Regions from separate parts of the Homo sapiens genome. Here region 2 is linked to region 1. The links come from fine-mapping of genetic effects on gene expression. A gene starts in region 1. The other region holds a variant in brackets. All regions are shown on one strand. Distances are between the middles of the regions.

What was found. PIP is the estimated chance that this variant, and not a neighbour inherited with it, causes the effect. A credible set is the group of variants that fine-mapping cannot tell apart.
Region 2: its variant is the best candidate, but not a certain one, in a credible set for the expression of SASS6 in monocytes after LPS (Quach 2016, PIP 0.65).

What each region holds. Positions count from the first base shown.
Region 1 is chr1:100,131,645-100,134,562 of GRCh38, reverse strand. SASS6 (SAS-6 centriolar assembly protein) reads left to right here and starts at 1,633. Exons shown (of 17, transcript NM_194292.3): 1 at 1,633-1,813. The coding sequence starts at 1,749. It overlaps TRMT13 (tRNA methyltransferase 13), which reads right to left and starts at 1,400. Exons shown (of 11, transcript NM_019083.3): 1 at 1,248-1,400. The coding sequence starts at 1,394. RefSeq lists enhancers at 1,186-1,715, 1,726-1,845, 1,250-1,852 and a silencer at 1,848-2,011.
Region 2 is chr1:100,050,014-100,052,931 of GRCh38, reverse strand. The region is part of intron 2 of SLC71A1 (solute carrier family 71 member 1); the gene reads right to left. Among named protein-coding and RNA genes, the nearest start is that of SLC71A1, 13 kb to the right of the region's middle. RefSeq lists enhancers at 2,476-2,565, 2,646-2,735. The variant C/AC (reference allele first, on the strand shown) is at 1,474.

The DNA of each region.
Region 1 (2,918 bases):
TTCAGTATGCTTCACTTTTGGTAAATGCCAGTCAAAACAAAATAGGAAGTAGACTACAACTATGATGGAGAGTGGCAGATGAAGGGGGTCAGGGGACTGATCTGCACTGGATATTGTCTAGAAGAATAAATTCCTTAAGAAATAAAATAATGCAAATAATACTGAACATTCAGAAGCATGAAATCTGATGCTGATCGCTTTGGTTTATTCTTTATAGTTCTGTGGAACTATAAGGACATGCTCTCTTCCTATGAGCATTTTGCTCCTCTGGTTTTTATTTTCCCATCTCATATATATCCTAAAGTAATATACATATATACAAATATAAAGTGTTTGATAGTACATTTATATGCATAATTATCAAACAAAATTGTATGCTTTGTTCTCAATTGTAAAAGGTCAATTCGTATATATTTAAAAATCTTTCCTTCCCATTCCAGCAAAGTTGCATTCTTAAAAACTGTAAGTCGAAAAAAATTTTTTTTTCTTTTTTGAGATTCAGTCTGGCTGTCACCCAGGCTGGAATGCAGTGGTGTGATCTTGGATTATTGCCACCTCCACCTCCTGGGTTCAAGCGATTCTCCTGCCTCAGCCTCCCGAGTAGCTGGGGTTACAGGCTCGCACCACCACGATTTTCTTAATTTTAGTAGCTCGCGCCACGGCTGATTTTCTTATTTTTAGTAGAGAGAGGGTTTCATCATGTTGGCCAGGCTGGTCTCGAGCTCCTGACCTCAAGTGATCCGCCCGCCTCGGCCTCCCAAAGTGCTGGGATTACAGGCGTGAGCCACCGCGCCGGGCCTCAAGTCTAAATTTTTAAAAGAAAGTTTCTTCCAACCGCATTCACGAGAAGTGCTTCTCTTTCATGAAATAACAATTAGAACACAACTAGTGAAACCTTTGGGACTTCAATCACTACTTTTTCTAAACTACCACTTTCCAGCAGGAAGACGGAGCGGTAGCTTGGGGTAAAAATTAAAACCTAGCATTACCATGAGTTAAGATCGAGATAAATAGATCAAAATAAATGGGTCACTGCTGGCGCTTTACTTAGAAAAATAAAAAATTTCTCATCACTAGAACTCATAATCGCTCCGCAAGGAGGGCAAAACTGGGTTTATTAAAGTGAAAGCTGGAGAATCCAGGGGACACAAGCAGAAAGCTGTCAAAGAGGGGAGGGGCCGGGTTCCAGCACCGACAGGACCAGGATACTTATTTCCGACTCTTGAGAGAGTAGGGCGATACCACACCTCCGCGGCTCCAGCGTGTTCACCACAAAATCTTTTCCCTGCGGCCACCACCATCCTGCAGAACCGTTTCTTCTTTTCCACATAGTAACCGCATCTACCCTCAGCTGGAAAACCAGGCGCGTGCGGCGACGTCGCGGAGGTCGCCATAATTCTAGGGCTCGCTTCCGGTGTCCAGCATCCGGCAACCAGAAGAAAAGTTAGAAGCTTCCTTCGGGTCTCCTTCCCTTAACAAACATGGCTGCCTCAGCCCCCGCGCCACACAGGTTAATACCCGGAACTACCACAACCGTCTTCCCTTTATCCTCCGCAGAACCGGAAGAATCCGATGGTGGCTGGCGAGGGCCAAGTCTCTTACGCCTTCCCCTCGTTTCTCCCTCCCCGCCTCCTCCGCAGAAGCCGAGCGCCAAACTCAAACTTTATCAGGACCCGGACCTCTCAGGCTAATCCCGAGGGCCGGGCCTGTTGGGCTTTTCTGCACACCAGCCGAGGCAGCGAGCCAACATGAGCCAAGTGCTGTTCCACCAACTAGTCCCGTTGCAGGTGAAATGCAAAGACTGTGAGGAGAGGTAAGGTCCGCGTCATCCAGTGCCCGCGGGTGGCGGTTGGGGTCAGGCCAATGGGGAAAGATGGCGGTTCTGGCCCGTGGGATCCACCTTGCACCTAGGTGTCGAGTCGGCCCCCCTAGGAAGCGGATAGGGAACCCAGAGGGCCCGGTGGTTACCTCTCTCACCAAGTCGGCCGTTGCAGAGGGGACTGGAGGAAGGGTGTGAGGAGTTAGGAAGCCGGCTCACATCAAGTTAATGTCAAAAACCCTACCTGTGCACGGAATCGTGAAGATTATAGCCCTACTCTTCCCTTTTGACAGATAAGAACTCTGGCCCAGAGAAGTTAAAAAAATTTACGTGAGGGCTCACAGCCAGTTCATGGCAGGGTCAGGACTAGAACTCAGGCCTTGGCTCCGAGCCTTTCCCCCTCGTTCTCTTTTGAAGTATGTTGGCAGTAAAGTTCAACTTTTAAAAACCTACCAATTTGGTGGCGTACTTTGGCTCTTCACATCAGTTGCTTTAAAAAAGTAAATTACATTTAACCGACTAAAAATGAGAAAAGCAGAAACGTCATTAATTCATTCAATAAATATTGCCTCCTTGTAAAACACCTTACTGGGCACTGGGAATACAGTGGTCAGGAAAAACAGTCCTTTTCTTCATGGAGTTTACAATCACTGGAGGAAATAAAGACCAGTCGCACAGAGAAGTGCAACTTTGATTAAGGAGGTGGTATTATTGGGGCGTAAATAGATTTGACCAGAGGTCAGGAGACTTACTTTTTTTTTCTCAGTTCTAACACTCAATGGTTGTCTCTTTTTTTCTCTGAACGTTCTTTCCTCATTTGTAAAACTGATATAACATGCGTATTCACGTGTTTGTAATGAGGATCAGGTGTGAAATCTTTTGCGTATTCACGTGTTTGTAATGAGGATCAGGTGTGAAATCGTATGTGAAAACTAAGTGGTGTACAAATGTAACATAAAAAATGAAGACATTGCCTTATTGAGTTGCCAGTAATGTCAAACTGTAGTATATATAGTTCAGAATTCGGTCAAAAATCAATGGCAAGCCGGTCAAGGAGATGGTCCCAAAACCAGCAGCTGCATATGGAGATCTGTAGGTT
Region 2 (2,918 bases), 82 kb after region 1:
CGTGCCTATAGTCCCAGCTACTCGGGAGGCTGAGGCAGGAGAATTGCTTGAACCTGGGAGGTGGAGGTTGCAGTGAGCCAAGGTTGCACCACTGCACTCCAGCCTGGGCAACAGAGTGAGACTCCATCTCAAAATACACAAACAAACAAAATAAAAAAAAAAAGAAAAAGAAAACAAAAATTAAAGATAATAAGAATATATTGGCCAGGCACAGTGGCTCACACCTGTAATCCCAGCACTTTGGGAGGCCAAGGCGGGCGGATCACGAGGTTAAGAGATCGAGACCATTCTGGTCAACATGGTGAAACCCCATCTCTACTAAAAGTACAAAAATTAGCTGGGCATGGTGGCATGTGCCTGTAGTCCCAGCTACTTGGGAGGCTGAGGCAGGAAAATCACTTGAACCTGGGAGGTGGGGGATGCAGTGAGCCAAGATCGTGCCTCTGCACTCCAGCCTGGGGACAGACAGAGCGAGACTCCGTCTCAAAAAAAAAAAAAAAAAAAAAAGGAATATATTAAGCACATTAGTCTATGAAAAATGAATAAACAAGCCTTTCTAATTAAGGGGACTCCTTCCTTGTTCTTAAAAAAGATAGCCTCCCTTTGTCCAACTAGGAAAAAAATGTACCAAAATAACACGAAAGATAACATACCTAAAAAAATTTAAACAAGAAGCAAATTTTAAAAATAGCTATACACACTTGAAATACTGATAACAAATTATGGAAACATCACAAAATGCTTTTTTTCATAGCTTGCTAACAGCTCATCCACATTTTGATCACCCTACTTAGCTAGTGGTTGGGCTGCCTGACAACCTCAACTATCTAAAACATGGGTACAAACAAGTTACTACCTGCATTCCCCAAAAGACTGAGCACTGGAGGAGTCAAGGAAGCCTGGGTGCAAATACCAACACTGCAGCTTACTGTCAGAGTAGCAATCAAATTGCTTAACTTTTCTAAGCCCCGGTTTCCTCATCTGTATTATGAGGCTAATATCTCACTGATAAGGTGGTTGTAAGGATGAAAAATGATAATGTATTCAAAGTGGAATACATTAGGACTGTGCTTAACATAGTCCACTTTGAATACATTAAAGGACTGTGCCTAGATCCATCATAATATAAATACACGTGGGCTGTTTACTATTACAAAGCTCAAGTACTTTAAATGGTAGGAGTGATGGTCTACCAGACAGATTTGTATGTTAAACTGACAGATTATAAAAAGCACGCTGGCGCATTAGGAAAGCTAATGTAAAGTCATGAGCCCAAAAAGTTATTACAGCACTTCAGTAACCCTTGACAAAAACAGGTTATTACAATTCAATGAAGTTATGAATGTCATAATCAACTTGCATCATCTGAGGAAGTTCCAAATCGTTGTACTTGGATTATGAAGCCAGGAAATGTGTAAATTAATTTTTTAAAGATTTCTATCTGAAATCAGTAAACTAAAAAAAAAAAAAAAA[C/AC]CCTCTGATATTTTTTTATAGCAATACTCATGAACATGCTCTATATATTCAAAATGACTTTTTATTTTTGAGACAGAGTCTCACCCTGTATCCAGGCTGGAGGGTAGTGGTGCAGTCTCGGCTCACTGCAACCTCCACTTCCCGGGTTCAAGAGATTCTCCTGCCTCAGCCTCCCAAGTAGCTGGGATTACAGGTGCGTACCACCACGCACAGCTAATTTTTGTATTTTTAGTAGAGACAGGGTTTCACCATGTTGGTCAGGATGGTCTCAATCTCTTGACCTCGTGATCCACCCGCCTTGGCCTCCCAAAGTACTGGGATTACAGGTGTGAGCCACCGCGCCCGGCTGTTTTTTTTTTTGTTTTTTTTTTTTGAGACAAGGTTTCACTCCCGTCGCCCAGGCTGGAGTGTGGTGGCACGATATCGGGTCACTACAACCTCTGCCTCCTGGGCTCAAGTGATTCTCCTGCCTTAGCCTCCCGAGTAGCTGGGACTACAAACATATGCCACCATGCACAACTAATTTTTGCATTTTTTGTAGAGACAAGGTTTTACCATGTTGCCCAGGCTGGTCTCAACTCCAGAGCTCAAGCGATCTGCCCACCCAGCCTCCCAAAATGCTGGGATTACAGGCATAAGCAACTGCTAAACATCAATATTTTATGTATAGATAGTAACAATTACACAGCTGTCAATAAATATATCAAGAAATATGTACTGTAAATGTTCTTAGGCTAGTTCAATCTACTTACATAATTTTTCTATTAAATAACTTTTTTATAAAAACCTTCATGAAAACATAGTATATTACTTTAAAACTCTATTCCTCTAGGATTTGGTAAACTGTACATTTATCATAATTACTCCTTTCAAGATGGTATAGATATTTACCATAGATAGTCCTTCCCTCCTTCCATTCCCCTTATCTACACCAATATAAGAAAACTGGCTATCTTCTGAGTTGTTTGGTCGGGCAGGGAGGTCTTTTCTAAAGTTTCAAACCTGGGAGAATTTGGGTAAAATCAGCTTAGATCTATTAAAGAATAGCCCTTCTAGGTACTTAGCCCAAATGAACAGAAACCTGTTTTTGGAAAGTACAGCTGCATAAATGAACCTCAAAGTAATTATGCCGAGTCATGCAGGTCACAGACATCATCTTTTCTAAACCTGTCGGTTTAAGAATCTCTTCCATTTTACTCAGAGTAGTTACAGAGCCTCTGCTTGAACATGCCCAGTGACAAGTCCAAATTCAAACACCTCCACGCCACCCCCCTCCCAAAAAAAGGTAAGGGAGAGTTAACAGTTGGAAAAGACAACCAGTAAAATACTGGTGAATACTGAACAATACTGGTGGGAGAATTAACCGTGCAAAGGGAAAAGGCCCACATTTTCCTCCAAAACTGAAGAAGAAGAGATTTTGGAGTCAGTGTTAAATAATTTAAAAG